Regions from separate parts of the Homo sapiens genome. Here regions 1, 3 and 4 are each linked to region 2. The links come from fine-mapping of genetic effects on gene expression. A gene starts in region 2. Each other region holds a variant in brackets. All regions are shown on one strand. Distances are from middle to middle. Region 1 overlaps HPS3 (HPS3 biogenesis of lysosomal organelles complex 2 subunit 1). Region 2 holds the start of HLTF (helicase like transcription factor). Region 3 has its middle 24 kb from the start of GYG1. Region 4 overlaps GYG1 (glycogenin 1).

The links. PIP is the estimated chance that this variant, and not a neighbour inherited with it, causes the effect. A credible set is the group of variants that fine-mapping cannot tell apart.
Region 1: its variant is the best candidate, but not a certain one, in a credible set for the expression of HLTF in whole blood (INTERVAL, PIP 0.59).
Region 3: its variant is the best candidate, but not a certain one, in a credible set for the expression of HLTF in subcutaneous fat (GTEx, PIP 0.85).
Region 4: its variant is the best candidate, but not a certain one, in a credible set for the expression of HLTF in lung (TOPMed, PIP 0.51).

What each region holds. Positions count from the first base shown.
Region 1 is chr3:149,138,233-149,142,232 of GRCh38, forward strand. HPS3 (HPS3 biogenesis of lysosomal organelles complex 2 subunit 1) reads left to right here. Exons shown (of 17, transcript NM_032383.5): 2 at 1,772-2,266; 3 at 2,785-2,956; 4 at 3,063-3,148. Among named protein-coding and RNA genes, the nearest start is that of HPS3, 11 kb to the left of the region's middle. The variant A/C (reference allele first, on the strand shown) is at 1,695.
Region 2 is chr3:149,084,356-149,089,195 of GRCh38, forward strand. HLTF (helicase like transcription factor) reads right to left here and starts at 2,178. Exons shown (of 25, transcript NM_003071.4): 1 at 1,962-2,178; 2 at 327-534. The coding sequence starts at 1,981. HLTF-AS1 (HLTF antisense RNA 1) reads left to right here and starts at 1,977. Exons shown (of 3, transcript NR_046648.1): 1 at 1,977-2,123. RefSeq lists enhancers at 1,505-2,022, 1,928-2,137, 2,023-2,540.
Region 3 is chr3:148,965,447-148,970,286 of GRCh38, forward strand. No RefSeq gene overlaps it. Among named protein-coding and RNA genes, the nearest start is that of GYG1, 24 kb to the right of the region's middle. The variant G/A (reference allele first, on the strand shown) is at 2,278.
Region 4 is chr3:149,002,045-149,006,044 of GRCh38, forward strand. The region is part of intron 4 of GYG1 (glycogenin 1); the gene reads left to right. Among named protein-coding and RNA genes, the nearest start is that of GYG1, 13 kb to the left of the region's middle. The variant T/C (reference allele first, on the strand shown) is at 1,503.

The sequences.
Region 1 (4,000 bases), 53 kb after region 2:
GGAGCCTGGTCAGCCCAGTGAATGTCTGCAGAAAGGGGCAGCACCTGTTTGCTTGCCTCATAAGTACATGGGAAGTCAATGTAATGGCAGCATTTCAATTTCAATTCATCGGAAAAGGGCCAATTTGCTTAATAGTGTTAATATAATAGAGTCTACATTTGGAAGAAGTGACATTAGATCCTCTGACTTATCTCCTTCTTTACCCGCAAAATTCTAAAGATTAAAAATGTATATTTTCTAAACCTCCACTAAAATAGAAGAAAATATAGGAGCATATTTATGTAATTTGGAGGACATGGATGGGAACTCAGAAGGCAAGGAGGAAAAGATACATATAGTATACTCTAAATAAAAAGGGTATGGTAAAACATGCCATCAGCAAAGTCAAAATCAGAAAATAGACTCTAAAACCATTTACTATTTATAGACGACAAAAGGTTTATATCCCTTTTAAGTAGAGAGCTACAGTGTCATGATAAGAAAAACAAATGAACAACTTAATAAAAATTGGACATCATGCAGAAGAGAAACTATACATGGCTGATAAACGTAGGAAAAGATGGCCAGCTTTATAAAAAGGTCTAGGAAATGTAAATTATAATAGCCGTGAGAGTCCATGTTTCTCTCATTGTGTAGAGTCAGTGCTAGTGAGGATGTGGGGAAACAGGTGTGTTTAAGCACTGCTGCTGGTAACATGAATTTCTATTATCTAATTGATAGTAATTGGGCAATATTGAAATTTAAAATGCCCATGCCCTTTGGCCCAACATATCTCACTTTTGGGAATCTGTACCGTTAAAATAAATCCCCCAGTAAATAAATATATAGATATAAGCCTATGTATTACTATGAAACATAGTGGCAAAAAACCCTGGAAATATATTTGAATGCTTATCAGTAAGGGAATTATTGAATAAATTATGCGTATGTATGTACATATGGGATGTTGAACATATTGAAAAGGATGTTAGATATCCATGTATCAGCCTGGAGGGAGAGATTTATTAATAATTTTTAAAAGTTGCAGATTGTTAAATATATTTAATATGATTACATTTTAGTTTTTGTTCATTTTTAAAAAAGACAGAATACCTCTCTGTGATCTCTGTTTATATGAGAGAAAGGTGTTGAAAGGCACATACCAGGCTGTGTGTTAACATTGGGTCCTCAAGGGGGAGATCATTATGCTTTTCATTTTGCATCTCTTTACCACGTTACCATTTTGACTTCCCACAACCAATATATGTTTATAAGTTAAAACTTATACAATCAACAATTTAGAGAAAATTAACTTGGATCTGTATTTTCTTTGCTATTTCCAACTTTATCCTGTTTCTCAGACTTGTGACTTGTGGGAAGGAGAGGGTTTGAAATGTAAATTCTGCTAATCTGAGAATTCCTTAATGTATACCTAATTTTGGTGTCACCCTAATAGTGAATTCTGTGTCAGTAGAGCTTTGTTAGAACTGCAGATTTAGAGCTACAGTAAACACTTAATTTTACATTTTATTCCTTATATGAACTTTCTGTATGTTACATGGGCAATTAATAGGTTGTCTTAAGACACTCAGATGGGAGAGATTGCATTTCAGAACCTCAAAGCCTAATGTCAGTCAAAAATACACCTAAGATTTTGTTACTTAGGGTTTTATTCTATTCAGTCTTTAATTCGACCATTTGTGTTAGAATTCATT[A/C]ATAGTACTCATGTCAGCAAGGGAGGTGGTTGTATTTCTAATTACAAATTCTCAGTATAATCTTCATTCCTTCTCAGGAGATTATTTGGTAGCAATTGAAGAGAAAAACAAAGCTACATTTCTACGTGCTTATGTGAACTGGAGAAATAAAAGGACTGAAAACTCTCGTGTGTGTATCCGAATGATTGGGCATAATGTGGAGGGACCATTCAGCAAAGCCTTCAGAGACCAGATGTACATTATTGAAATGCCGCTTTCGGAGGCCCCCTTGTGCATTTCCTGTTGCCCTGTGAAAGGAGACCTTCTCGTTGGCTGCACAAATAAATTAGTCTTATTTAGTTTGAAGTACCAGATCATTAATGAGGAATTCTCACTATTGGACTTTGAACGTTCTTTAATTATACACATAGATAATATCACTCCTGTTGAGGTTTCTTTTTGTGTTGGATATGTTGCTGTCATGTCAGACTTAGAAGTCTTAATCGTAAAACTGGAGTCAGGCCCTAAAAATGGAGAGAGAGTTCACCACCATCCACATAAGACCAACAATCGAATAAGACGGACAGAAGAAGGTAAATAATGAATTTGACTTGCTTTCTTGTTTTAGGAATATAGAAAACCTTCACCTTTGGCAGTCTGAAGGTCTGTGGTATATATGGTGCCCGGCCATGTTATTTATAGATTTAGTTATTCCTATTTCATGGGATTTGGTTTTATGATCTGGCTGTCCATAGCTTACTCTGTAGCATGTGAATATATTTATCAGTAGAAGTAATGGAACAACCACTGCTAGATGAGGGGCTTCTAGTCCTAGTCCTCATAGTTACTAGTTGAATGACCTTGGGTTAATAATACCATCTCTGAGTTTCAACATCCTCATTTGTAAAATGGGGATGATAATACCTACCCTGTTGTACTTTATCAGTTGTGGAGATTAAATGAGCAAGTGCTAAGTCTTTTCACAACCACAGTGCCTTGTAAATGTGTGCATATTATAAATAAATGAAATTACTATATGTCTAATTGGTGAGAGGATGTTGTAAAATCTAATTTTCATTCAAGCAGGACTGTTACATTTTATTTTTTTAAGGCATCAGTAATGAAATTTCACAGCTTGAGTCAGATGATTTTGTCATCTGCCAGAAGCCCCTGGAACTTCTTGGTGAAAAAAGTGAACAGTCTGGATTATCTGTTACACTGGAGTCTACGGGATTAGCTGATGAAAAAAGAAAATATTCCCACTTTCAGCACCTGCTCTATAGGTATTATAGTGCTTTTTTTTTTTTTACCAGCATTTTATGTATATATGCCTGCTTAAAGTACATGGAAGTTATATTTTTCCCTTTCTCTGTCTTTTTAAACCCACAGACGTTTTGCTCCTGATATTTCGTCCTATGTCTTGTCTGATGACATCAAGCTACATTCCCTCCAGCTGCTACCCATTTACCAGACCGGTAAGCATGACAGTGCAGGAGTGCGACAGTGCAGCAAGGTGAAAATGCTCTGTCTGGGCTGGGAGTGAAGACCCATGTGGGTAATAGGTTTGGTGGTTTGGTTCTTCCACTGGAGTCTCCTTGTGGCCCTTTAACAAAGTTTTTTTTTTTGTTTTTTTTTTTTTTTTTTTTTGAGACTGAGTCTCGCTTTATTGCCAGTCTGGAGTGCAGTGGTGCGATCTCGGCTCACTGCAACTTCTACTTCCTGGGTTCAAGTGATTCTCCTGCCTCAGCCTCCCGAGTAGCTGGGACTACAGGCGCCCGCCACCAAGCCCGGCTAAATTTTTTTGTATTTTTAGCAGAGACGGGGTTTCACCATGTTGGGCAGGATGGTCTCGATCTCCTGACTTTGTGATCTGCCTGTGTTGGCCTCCCAAAGTGCTAGGATTACAGGCATGAGCCACCACACCCGACCTCTATTTTATTATTATTTATTATTTTTTTTCTTGAGACAGAGTTTTGCTCTTGTTGTCCAGGCTGGAGTGCAATGGTATGATCTTGGCTCACTGCAACCTCCACCTCCCGGGTTCAAGTGATTCTCCTGCCTCAGACTCCCGAGTAGCTGGGATTACAGGAATGCCCCACCACGCCCAGCTAATTTTGTATTTTTAGTAGAGATGGGGTTTCTCCATGTTGGTCAGGCTGGTCTCGAACTCCCGACCTCATTGATCCGCCCACCTCGGCCTCCCAAAGTGCTGGGATTACAGGTGTGAGCCACCACACCCGGCCCAAAATCCTTAGCAAATACCTATGAGTACTAGAAAGGGAAGTCATACCTGCTAGGAGAAGCCATGGAGAAGGCATGACAGACTG
Region 2 (4,840 bases):
ATCCAGAAGATTCCACAAAACGATCTCCTTTTTGCAACAAATCGATGACATGAACAAGGCGCTGGGGTGTGGGGGTGGGGTGCTACCCATAATAACCAAACATAACGCACTGAGGCCAAGCATATTGGCTCATTCCTGTAATCCCAACACTCTGGGAGGCTGAGGTGGGAGGGTCACTTAAGGTATTTGTTATTTTTTGCGTACAAATATTTAACTAACTTAAAGTAAAATAAAGATTAACCGCACACATCACCTGCGAATTCTCTTATTTTCTAGGTTAACGCCAGAAATATAATCAAAATTTAATTATCTACTATTATACTCACTACTCCCGTGTAATAGCGTAGTCCAACCACATGACCTCTCAAACTTCCAAATAAAACGGAATCTACTTCTTCATCACTAGTTAGAAAGTCATCTGGAGGGATAACATCTTGGAATTCAAAACGTGGAAAGAAAGTTGGATATGAGAGGCGTGGAAAATTTCCATGAACTCCATACTGGACAGTCTGCAAGTACTTCCAAACTGGATCCCTATTTTTTTTTAAAGGCAAAGAAAAACAATATAATATTTAAGTATTTCCAAAGACCATATGAGTAGTTTTCTCATGCTTTACTTCAGCAAATGAAATCTTACATGGGAATCACGGTAAAGATTAATAGTTACTCTCGTTAAAGCAGGAATTGCAGTGAGTGGAGAAGGCTTCTAGGAACTCTACCTGTTTTCAATATTGGCTCTTCTACCTGCCCCCTAGGTATTCAAAATGAAAAGCCTAGTCAGAGTTCACTAACCTCTTTCCCAGTGAAAATCATCTAAATTGATATGTATATGATGTCTGTAACTACAATTATGGGCCGGATGCGGTGGCTCACGCCTGGAATCCCAGCACTTTGGGAGGCAGAGGCAGGTGGATCACCTGAGGTCAGGAATTTGAGACCAACCTGGCCAACATTGTGAAACCCTGTCTACTACAAATACAAAAATTAGCCAGGCGTGGTGGCGCCCATATGTAATCCCAGCTACTCGGGAGGCTGAGGCAGGAGAATCACTTGAACCCGGGAGGCGTAGGTTGCAGCGAGCCGAGATTGTGCCACTGCACTCCAGCCTGGACGACAGAGCGAGACTCCATGTCAAAAAAATAATTTAAAAAATGAAATCATATGCCAAAATTTCAATAGGGATTGAGCTATATAAAAGACTTATAAAAATACAACTATTAATGTACCAGAAGTTGTTTATAATTTTCCAGAAAATACATCCAGCATCCATCACTGTAACTCCCTGCGAGCAGAACACCTATTCTGGTATCCAAACCACGCCACCGTGGGAAATTGGCCCCAAGCCACCCGTACCCGCCTTCCGTCGCCGGTTTAAGCATAACCCCAAACCCATTAGGTGTAACTGTTTCGGGAATGACCATAAATACCAATTTGGACAATGAAAAGTGAAGGGGAGTCTACTGGAGCATTGCAAAAAGTTTCCATTCTCCTAAGAACAGTCGCTTATTTGCGATGCGTTTTCCTTGCAAGTGGCGCATATCTCTACTAGCGCCTCTGCAAATACTTATCTGCACGTCTGTGCATACAGATAAGCTGTGAGCCACTTGGGGACAAGGACTGTCTTACTCGGCCCTCCACCGAGCACAATGCCTGGCGCACAGTGGGTATCTAATGGATGTTTTGTTAAATAAAGCACTGGCCGAGATGCTTTAAGCCCCAGGCCCCCCACAGTCGGTGACAGAGATTTCCCAAGTCCCTAACACGGGACTCGCCCTAGGAGCCCCTACTCGCCAGCGAAGACAATGCATTTATTTCTCCGGCGGCCACATATGCGACCAACAGAACGAATACAGCTGCACAAATCGCCCAGGGAACGCAGAGGAACGCGGGGAAGGTCAGGTTCATTTGGGGACGCCTCCAGGCCGTTAGACCGAGCGCCCCACCCCCTCCGCCCCCTTCACCTCTTGAACATCCAGGACATGGCGCTGAGTGGGATGACAAGAGGAGCGCCTCGGCTCCCCTGGATCGTTTTCGAGCCGCCTCGATACGCCTCCTTCCAGGCCCCGCAGCCCTGAAGCCGGGGACAAATTCCGAGCGCCGGATCAGGAGCGCACGACTGAAAGGTAAGTCGCCGCGAGTCCAGTCAGACGTCGACGCCGTCTCCTTCTGCAACAATCTGGGAGACCAGCGTCGCTCTGTGACTGGCACTAGGAAAGCCCAATCACGAAGAGGAGAGTGCGGAGCCAAACCAGTCAGAGCACAGAAGGGAGGGCAACTCCGCCCCGCTGCCATTCAAAGACGGCGGGGGGTCCGGGCTGCAAGGGTGGTTCCATCCGGGTTCTTCCCCGCCCCCAAGGCGGGCGCGCGGGAAAGCCACGAGGCCCCAGGAGTGCGACTGCGGTGCCTGCGGTGCCGGTGTTTTGTTTGATTCCCTGCCTCAAACGGAGGGAAACGACCTTCCTTTATCCTACGAGTCCTAAGACTGAACCCCATTCTAAAGGCTCTACCGTATCCTTCCTCTTATTTTCTTCTCATCTAATGTGGCACATAATAGGGCCTTATACTAAAGGAGCTCCACGGTTTACGAGACCTAGAGCTACCGGCGAGATACTTTACTTCATTCCCTGTGGTGAACCGTGGGGACTTTCGCTCCAAATTTTCATGTTAAGCCTCAGCGTATGCATGAGACACAACGAGTTTGGAAAATCTTAAATGGAACTTAGAGTCCCCTCCCCACCTCTTTTTGTTATTTTTAAGGAAAATTTTCCTTTCTTGGTGCAGGAAACCCATCACATGTTTATTACAGCTATGGGGGCGTTTGCCTGAAATGGTGGACGGGACCATTTTCCCCGTGGGCACTTGGCTGCTCCAGCCAAGAGGGGGAGGCCCTTGTTTTCCTCAAGGAACTGCAGAGGGGCGCTCTGAGGCCCTCCATGGCTCTCTTTCCAGAGTCTGAGGTGACCGGAAGGAGAATGCGGCCCTGGGACCGTCAACCTTGGACCAGCTGCAGCCGACGCCTGGCAGGGCTGGTCGCTTTGCGTTGAGGAGGCTGCTGTCCCCGAAGCTGGCCTTTTAATCGCACAGGGCAGGAAGCTGGTGGTGGCGCCCAGCTGCACAGGCGGCACCATGTAACTGCCAGATAATACTTGCGCGTCACAGAGAGGTCCATGTTACACGCCTGTCAGCACAATAATATTAGGTGGTCAGCTTTTCTTTTTTCTTTTTTTTGTTTTTTTTTCTTTTTTATTGAGATGGAGTCTTGCTCTGTCCCCCAGGCTGGAGTGCAATGGGGGTGATCTTGGCTCACTGCAACCTCCGCCTCCCGGATTCAAGCGATTCTCCTGCCTCAGCCTCCGGAGTAGCCGGGATTGCAGGAGCCCGCCACCACGCCCAGCTAATTTTTGTATTTTTAGTAGAGACGGGGTTTCACCATATTGGCCAGGCTGGTCTTGAACTCCTGACCTCAGGTGATCCGCCCGCCTCGGCCTCCCAGAGTGCTGGGATTACAGGCATGAGCCACCGTGCCAGGCCGGTAGTCAGCTTTTCAAGACACATTTGTTCATTATCGTAAATAAACTGTAGTGATCTCTAATCATGAACCATGGATGAGCAATAGAATTTGAAACAATGTATTATTTCATTTGACCAAAGTTGATGAGGAAGATAAAGACAATGGCATTTCAAATTATTTTAATTGTTGTATGTTCTTCTTGAAGTGTGTTGAGGCAAATGGCAATACAGTTCAGCTTTTAGTATGCCAGATTTTAAATAAATTCTTGGAAAATATGCCAGAAATTGCTCAAATTGATGTTTTGTAAGAGTAAGAAAGTCATGCTCACTAGACAAAGAAAAAATTCCAAATATGAGAACATAGCTCTTTCAGACTTAAGACTGGCCAGGCGCAATGGCTCACACCTATAATCCCAGCACTTTGGGAGGCCGAGTTGGGTGGATCACCTGAGGTCAGGAGTTCGAGACCAGCCTGGCCAACATGGTGAAAGCCTGACTCTACTAAGAAAATACAAAAATTAAGCAGACGTGGTGGCACGCACCTGTAGTCCTAGCTACTTGGGAGGCTGAGGCAGGAGAATCGCTTGAACCAGGGAGACATGGGTTGCAGTGAGCCGAGATCAAGCCACTGCACTCCAGCCTGAGCAACAGAGCGAGACTCCATCTCAAAAAAATAAAAAGACTTAAGATCTATGAATAATGACTGTCCCATGGTTAAAGAATGTGCTTTGAATGAACTAAAATTTGCTATTTAAAGGAATGGTATGGAAAGGAAAGGAATCCAAAATTTCTCCATCCAGCCACTTCCCAGTCACAAACACACTTCTCATCTGCACCCCCAGCCACACACACACACATGCCCGCGCGCGCGCACACACACACACACACACACACACACACAGAACCTTTATGCAAATTAATCATGTCATGTCACTCCCCTGTTTGATTCAGTGAGCCTGAAATCCAAGAATGGCATATGTGGCTCTTCCTCCCACAGTATGTTTTCTCTATGTTATCAATATTTCACATCCCAGAACCAGGAGTAAAACATTCTTTCCCTTAATCATTCTTTGTTTTATATTTAAAGATCAAGTACAATTTGTACTAGTTTGATTAAAATGTTACAGCAATTACAATTTCAAAACTATTATACTAAATAATGTTTTCTGAAAAATTAACTTTTTTGGTTTTTTCTTGATTTATTCTGATAACAGCATCACAAGTAGATATGAAAAATGAACACTTGTAACTGGAAAATGAACTGTAGGGTGGCTTGTGGGGTTTGGCTGGTGAGTAAGAAGGAAAGTGGCACTAAAAGGACGGTGGGGAA
Region 3 (4,840 bases), 120 kb before region 2:
AGAAATCCAGATATTTGTGTGAAATCACCCAATTTTTTTTTAAATGATGACAACTGACTGATTTTCTATGATGCTGTACAGATCAAACCAAACCCACCTTCAGGCTAGCAGCAAAACATGTTTGCAACCTTCCTCAGCACAGCCAAGGCATGAAAGAAGAGGAGAAAAGCTAGCACCCACTTGGTGGCAAAGGAAGGAAGGTGGGGGTGGGAGGCTCTAGGAAGAAGCCAAAGGTCCAATAGTGAGTTAAGCAGCTTTGCCAAAGATGAGCTCTGCAGCAGCTTGCCTTTACCCCAGCATGGAGAGTGGAGGAAGGGACCAACCACACAGCGATCCTCTGGAAAGACCTCCAAGCAACAACTTTGTCCCTATCCCATCTACTTCTATTCTACCCTCCCATCAGGCCCCCGTTATGACTTTCATGGGTCCTAGGCACTTTTGCCTTCACGGGTGACTTCCTCCCTAAATATATAAAATATTTTATGGCTATGCTGGTATAAAGACAAATACTATTCAGGCTAGATCATATTCATTTTTTCCTTATGATTTTAAAAGATATTTTCTTAGGTCCCTGAAAATATCATGGGCCTTAGATCCTGGCCTATTGAGCCTAAAGGCTAAAGCTGGCCCTACCTCCAGCTGGGTGGTGCTTGGCTTCAACACTGGATGAAAGCTCTCATTACTTAGCAGCTGATGTTTTTCACTGTAAATATGGCAAATCACTCGCCATGTTGGGAGGTAACCGTAATATTGTGGACATAGCATGGGCTGAAGTCAGACTGCAAAAGTTCAAATCCCAGTTCTGCCATTTATAATTTAAGTGACTTTAGGCAAATCATTTAACTTCTCTGTGGCTTGATTTCCACAACCATGAAACAAGAATGATAATAGTACCTACTTGAGAATTGCTATGATGATTAAATGAGTTAATACATGTAAAATGCTTACAATGGTACCTAGAAATAGTAGAAAATAGATGTTAGCTATTTCTGTGTTCTGTAGTTTCCCCACGACTGATTGACTTTATGGTTTTGGATATTGATAAAATTATTGAGTTAACACATAAGTACTCTTGAAGAGCTGACCCTTCTGAGGTCTTGAAGGCAATAACTTCATTGTGATTTCCCAAAGATAACCTAGTTGCACAAAATTCAACAGACGGATGAAAGTCCATGCAGGCTTGCCTCAGCTAGCTTTTAGTTGTATCTTACATTCTTCCTGTTAGCTTCCTGAGTGCCCCCATTTGTCTATAAAAGAAATTCAAAGTGAAGACTTGAGCATAAAACCTTGTCCAGGGGGCGGGGGGCGGTGGCTCACGCCTGTAATCCCAGCACTTTGGCAGGCTGAGGCAGGCGGATCACTTGAGGTCAGGAGTTGGGAGGCTGAGGTGGGTGGATCACTTGAGGTCAGGAATTCAAGACCAGCCCAGCCAACATGGCAAAGCCCATCTCTACTAAAAATACAAAAATAAGCCCAGCGTGGTGGCATGCACCTATAGTCCCATCTACTCAGGAGGCGAAGGTGGGAAAATCGCTTGAATCCAGGAGGCGGAGGTTGCAGTGAGCTGAGGTTGCATTGCACCATTGCACTCCAGCCTGGGTGACAGAGTGAGACTCTACCTCAAACAAACAAACAAAACTTGTTCCAGGGATTCTAAAGAAATGTGCTCTTTCAATAAATATGCTTTGCATTCATCAATAAAGTGCCTAGCAGCTTTCAAAGCTCAAACATTATATAATGAGATAACACACTCAAAGCATCCAAAGACAAGAGAGAATGTTAGAAAACTTCATGACACTGGGAGGCCCCAGAGTGTCAATCTTCCCTATTGTACTAGAATAATTATCACTAATGATCTGTTATGATCCACAGAATTGCAAGGCGGAAGAGCCTCTCCATTCATTCTTATTGGCTGAAGACACTAAGGCCGAGAAAATTCAGTTGTTTCCTCAAGGTCACGTAGATTAGTCTCCTGTTTTCCTCTGTGGCTACCCCAGCCATTTCTGTTATCATTTTTTTTTAATATTGTTTATACTGAGTTCTTTAAATCAAATCTATATCTTTCATGCTAGAATTGTTACAGCTAAAGATGGTTAGAGACTTTTGTGCAGATTTTAAATTTCTTTTGGTGGAAAAACAAAACAGTGGTCGAAAAAGTACTTGTTGAGCCAGGCATGGTGGCTCACGCCTATAATTCCAGCACTTCGGGAGGCCAAGGTGGGTGGATCACCTGAGGTTGGGAGTTCGAGACCAGCCTGACCAACATGGAGAAACCCC[G/A]TCTCTACTAAAAATACAAAATTAGCTGGGTGTGGTGGTGGGCGCCTGTAATCCCAGCTACTCGGGGCTGGGGGCTGAGGCAGCAGAATTGCTTGAACCCAGGAGGCGGAGGTTGCGGTGAGCTGAGATCGCGCCATTGCACTCCAGCCTGGGCAACAAGAGCAAAACTCCGTCTCAAAAAACAAAAACAAAACAAATAAAAAAGTACTTGTTGAATGAATGAAAATTCTTTAAGCTTTTCTGTCCTTTTTTCTTTTTTTAAGACAGGGTCTTACATTCCCACCCAGGCTGGAATGCAGTGGTGCAAACACAGTTCACTGCAGCCTCAACCTCCTGGGATCAACCAATCCTCAAATAGCTGAGACTAGAGGAGTGTGGAGTGTGTCACCACACCACCATGCCACCACCCCTCGGCTAATTTTTTTTTTTTTTAAGATATGGGGGTCTCGCTATGTTGCCCAGGCTGGTCTTCAACTCCTAAGCTCAAGCAATCTGCCCACCTTGGCCTCCCAAAGTGCTAGGGTTGCAGGCTTGAGCCACTGCACCCAGCCTAAGCATTTATTTTGTACCCTCTGTGATCTCATTGTTGAATTCCTCATCGTTTTATAAAGTAGAAGGAGGAAATGGAGACTCTCTTCTATTATCATGTTCTTGCTGTACATATAATCCAAATGGTTCATAACCACATATGGTTGATGTGTTGAGAAGGCATGACATATTCATATTTCTAAATGTTTAAAAGATTATTTTAAAATGAGTGTTGTTTGATTTCAAAAGACTTGATGAAAATGTATCTAAAGACACATGATTTGGTGATTCCTGAAGACAAGAATAAGGGAGGCCATATGGAATCTCTGGCTAAGCTGAGCCTACTTTCCTTGCTGTTTCTACACAGTGTACTTTTAACTGCTCCAAACTGCAAAGAAACAAAAAACAAAACACTTATTCTCATCTAATCAAGAGGAAATGGCATAATTTTAAATCTCTTACATCAGCTAAGAACAAATGCATTTTTCAAGAGACATATTTCCTATTTACAGTTCCCATTCCAAAAAAAAATCAGCAAATATCCCTCGTGCATTTGCAAAATATTGTAAAATTACTAATTCCTCCCAATAGCATTGACAGCCCGTTAATAGCAAAGGTGCTAAAGAAAGAGGCATATTACAGAATTTTATGTAACTCAAGTTCTAGTCTGTTATTGAGTCCAGTGAGCCATGCTGCATTCCTAATGTTCACATAGATGTCTGAATCTTTCTTTGGGCCAAAATAAACCTATTGGTTGCATCTGAAATAGCTGTTTTGTTAAAATTTGGAGTCATTTATAAACCAAATGGTTATTTCCTTATAGCAAAAGAACAAAACCCATTCCTAACCTATGCTCATATATGATATTCAGTTCTATGGGCCCAAATGCAATTCCTGAACATAAGCCATGTCAGCACTGAGTGGTTAATACAGGCTAATATATTGGCTTTTTTTAACTGGACTATTAAGTCCATTAACATTTAATGAAACAATTTTAACTGTATCCACAAAACACTCACAATGCCTTTCCATCAACTCCCTAAAGGCAAAACAACATAAATTTAAGAGAAAAATAACTACGAAGATTTAGTAAGTGCAAATGATTTCTGTAGAACAGGTTAAGTCTCAAATTTCTGTCTCAATACAGTCCACATTTGATTTTTACTACAAAGATAAGCCCAAACCCTACCAAATAATCTCAGCATGAAGACATTGGCATTCCTCTAGCTACAATGTAATATATATAGAATTAACACATAATTTCACAAAGAGTCTTAGAAATCCATTGCAAAATTATGCGGTAAAACATTTTCTTTTAAAATATCATGTTAATCCTTTTCCCTTTATAGAAGTCTCAAAGTAAAATTATATTCATTTTGCCTTGAATGATTAAGATCTAGAAACCAAAGTCCTTTACAGAGATTCGACTGTCATATTGCCACAGAGAGACATATACGGAACACAAATAAATCAAATTGTTCATTCATTTGTGCTTTATTGATTGTTACCTTCAACACATACATATACTAGTTTAAGCTTATGTTTGTTCTGAACCTTAAATCTGAATCTTTTTATAAATACATTTTTTCCAAGGCCTATTTTGAAACTTCTGAAGTAGAGAGAAGTAACATTGGCCCCCTTATTAAGATTTTAGAAAAGAAACTAACATATTCTTATTCATGTTTCTTAGTAGATGCCACTATCTGGACAATTCTATAGATCTAACAACTCTACATTCACTCCACCCAAATTTGATCCCTTTGAAAATAGCTCCTCTCTCCTCAATAAAAAAAAATAAAAAAAGCTACTAACAGCCCCCCTCAATTAAAAAAAAAGCAACAAAAACATGGACTTATAGCAATATTTTGGTAAACTTATTTAATAACCTAATGATTAAAAAAAGAAGTCATATATTTTTTAACACCTGTCTTGAAAGACCTCAAATGGCAGCTTCAGGGATTTGAATACCTTTGAGAAACCTGAACATCTAAAGGAGTTAGTGGGACTGATTAGGTCAAAGCTCAGAACATTTGAC
Region 4 (4,000 bases), 83 kb before region 2:
AAAATCAGCAGCACAGTTCATCGTCTTGCAGTGTTTTATGGAGTCTAGATGTATTCTTGGAAGGGTTCCTCTCACCTATATTTCTGTAGTAGGTCCATTCATTATTTCAAACATAATTTTAATTTCTAATCTGGGCAAAATCCTAAATTGAAGGGGCAAAAATAGACTGGTAAATAATACAGATTTTATTCCTGCCTCTATAAAGTTTATATTCTGAGACCTTACAGACATCTAACAACTAATACACAGTTATGTAATCATGATTCTAGTAAGTTCAGAGTACTAAGAGTCCAGACTAGGAGGACCTGCCTTAGACTGAGAAACTGACATTTAAGCCAAGAATAAATGTTTCCTTGCAAGTATGTAATAATTAATAGCTTGATACTTAATAATCTTTTAACAAAGTAGTGAAAAACAAAAGCTATAACATGAAGTAGTAAAATAAATCAGTTATTCTTGGCTTAAATGGGTTGAGGCCAGTGAGATGCCGTGATGCTGGGGCCCAAGCTCCAAGTGCCTGGATTTCCATAAGCCACCTTGGGTTAATCTAATGATCCTCAGTAAATCTCATAAAAATATCCCCAAGAGCTGGGCTTTCATAAGCTGTAATTTATTAATCCTTAGCATGCTCACTATAGGCAGTAATGATTATATCCACCAAGCATTTTGTAGGAAGTTAGTTTTAAAAAGAAGTGTCCAGGCGCAGTGGCTCACACCTGTAATTCCAACACTTCGGAAGGCCAAGGCAGGTGGATCACTTGAGGTCAGGAGTTCCAGACCAGCCTGGCCAAAATGGTTAAACCCCATCTCTACTAAAAATGCAAAAATTAGCCGGGTGTGGTGGCACATGCCTGTAGTCCCAGCTTCTTGGGAGGCTGAGGTGGGAGAATCACTTGAACCCTGGAAGCAGAGGCAATGAGCTGAGGTACGCCACTGCACTCCAGCCTGGGTGACAGAGCAAGACTCTGTCTCTGTAAATAAATAATAGATAGATAGATAGAAGTGAGTCACATGTTCATGTCAGTCCTTGTCTCTAGCTCAATTACAATATAAAGCATATTTTACTATAATTTTTTTTTTTTTTTTTTGAGATGGAGTTTCACTGTTGTTGCCCAGGCTGGAGTGCAATGGTGCAATCTCGGCTCACTGCAACCTCTGCCTCCTGGGTTCAAGTGATTCTCCTGCCTCAGCCTCCTGAGTAGCTGGGATTACAGGTGCCTGCCACCATGCGCAGCTAATTTTTGTGTTTTTAGTAGAAATGGGGTTTCACCATGTTGGCCAGGCTGGTCTTGAACTCCTGAGCTCAGGTGATCCACCCACCTCGGCCTCCCAAAGTGCTGGGATTACAGGTGTGAGTCACCGTGCCTGGACTTTTACTTTATTTACTTTGTCCATCTGTCCCTTTTTGGATTTTGAAGTATCTGAGAGTTGGAACCTATCTGAATCTTCCTATTATGTGAATACCAAATTTATAAAATGTTAGACATTTTTTATAGAAATGA[T/C]ATTTTTAAAAGTTATTATCCTTTGTTATAATAAAGAAGTCGTTCTTCAAAAGACTCTAGTACTTCTCAAATTTAATATGCAGACAAATTCCCTAGGGATTAAGATGTGGCTTCTGATTCTGTAGGTCTGGGGTGGGGCTCAACAGTTTGCATTTCTGTCAAGCTCCCAGGTGATGCCCATGCTGCTGGAACCCGGGCCACAGTTTGAGGAGCACTATTATAGGGGGAACATTCCTTTGGCTGAGATGCTGGGGCTCATGTCTAAACCAGAATTAACTCACTGCCCTGTTATCCACAGTAGACAAGCCAGCTGCCAGCAAACTGTGGAAGAGCACGCAAAGTACACAAGCATTGAACAAATGCACAGATTTAAAAAGACACCACTTAACTCTTGTTTCTGTCTTAGGAAACAAATAGGCCCAGTTTCTGATAAATGCATCCATGGTTACCAGGTATGTGACCCTGCTCAGAAGACCTAGAAAGTACCAAGTCTGTAGTTGCAAGGTGATTACACAGCATTTGCATTTGGGCAGCCGGGTGGAAGGATGATTCAGAATGAGATACTTGCTTTTGTTCGCAAAACAGATGCGATGTGCCCCTTGTTCCATTTCCTTTCTCCCTGTCTCTCACCTGTGTTACCACACCCTGGTGTACCGGATCACAGCTGCTAGTGATGCCTGCTAATCATGTTTGTTGGCTCTGAGATGAGTGAGATTAAAATTATCTTAACCTGTCAGATTAGATAAAGCTGCCTCTAGAAGTCTGACTAAAATGTATCGGACAAAAGTTGTAGGGTTTTTGTTATGGAAAATCAGCAGTCTTTAGGGCATCCTTGTATGTTTTCTAATACAGATGTGCCTAGATTTGCATTCTGCTTTGAACTGTCCTATCATTTAAAGATTTTTCTAAAGAGAGGATATTGGTAACACCATACATAGATTTTTCTGATGACGTTAAAACATTTGCCTGACCTTAAAATGTTGAACTGTGCATTTGGGAAAAGGTGGTTAAGATTTCTAGACCGCTGAATTTAAAAATTCAGCTACGGACTTCTACATGGCATTTAATTTATTTTTAATCCACAATTTTGGACTAAATGATAAACCTTTGTAGTCACATAATGAGGTCAGTGGCCCTGGAAGTTTTATGACCTGTGTTGTCCCCTCTGGAGCCAAGGTTCTTGTTGAGTGTTTCAGGATTTGCCAATTTAACAGGCACTGTTGATTCACCAGTTCTGCTTCAGTGCCTTTTCTCTTCCTTGCTTGTTTTCTGTACACCCCGTGCTTCCCAGCCTTCCTGTGGCACACAGCTGATGGGCTGATGATGTTTGTAGGGTACCTGAGGGTAAACAGAAACGGCCTTTTGTGGCCAAAGGCAGCCAGCCAGGGACTTTGAGGGATCAGCAGCTCTGACTCCTGTTTCCCAGGCTCATGCAGGTCGGATTTGGAAGTTCTACTTTACAACTACGATTTAGGCCTCTGTGGAATTAGATTTCTTTACTGCATTATGGGTAGCTGTTAGTCATTTTAAGTGGAATTGCTTCAGTTAAAGAAGGTGTTATAATGTCCAGGTTCTCAAATTGGATAAATGTGTAGAGTTTTATTATTAATATCCTTTATAACCTACACATATATTTTTTTTTTGGTAGTATACTTCATAATAAAAATTAAAAGTAAAGAGTATTTAGAAAGAAAAGATCTAAGCACAGTTCTCATTCTTGCCCCCAGTTGTATTACTAATATTTTAGCATTAAAAGAATAATAGGAAAAAGAGGGGGGAAGGAACATCTATTACACCAATCCCCTAATGCAATTACTATTATTTTATTTACTTTCTTGTAATATAAATGTTAATTAATGTTTATGTTCTTAGTTATAATCACAATGTATGTAGCTGTATATATTACACAGTGTACTGAAGTTGTCTTTATAGACATTAGTTTTAATTGCTGAATCATATTCCATGAGTAGTTAGTATTAATATACTAACCATTCCTGTATGGTAGAATATAAGTCGTTTAAATTTTTCTGCTGTTACAGAATATCTTCAAGATTCTTGCATTCATTCCATAAATAATTTGCCTATGTGTAAGGCATTCTGCTACATGTTAGCATCATAATGGTGAGCAAAAGGCCATAATCTCTGTTCTTGTGGAATTTAGCATCTAATTCCTGATTGTATTTTGCACATTAATTGTAAGAGTTTTTTAAAAACCTGTTCATTTTGAGAGAATTTCCATGCAGTTGTAAGAAATAATACAGACAGATCCCACATATGCTTCATCTGTTTTCCCCTAATGGTAGTACCTTACATAACTAAAATGTATTGCCCCAACCAGGAGATTGACATTGGACCAATCCACCAACCTTACTCAGATTTCACCAGTTTTATATGTATTCCCTTTTCTGTGTGTATGTGTATATGTATATGCACTTTTGGTTTTTATGCAACTTTATCACATGGGTAGATTGGTGTGACTACCACCATAGTCAAGATGC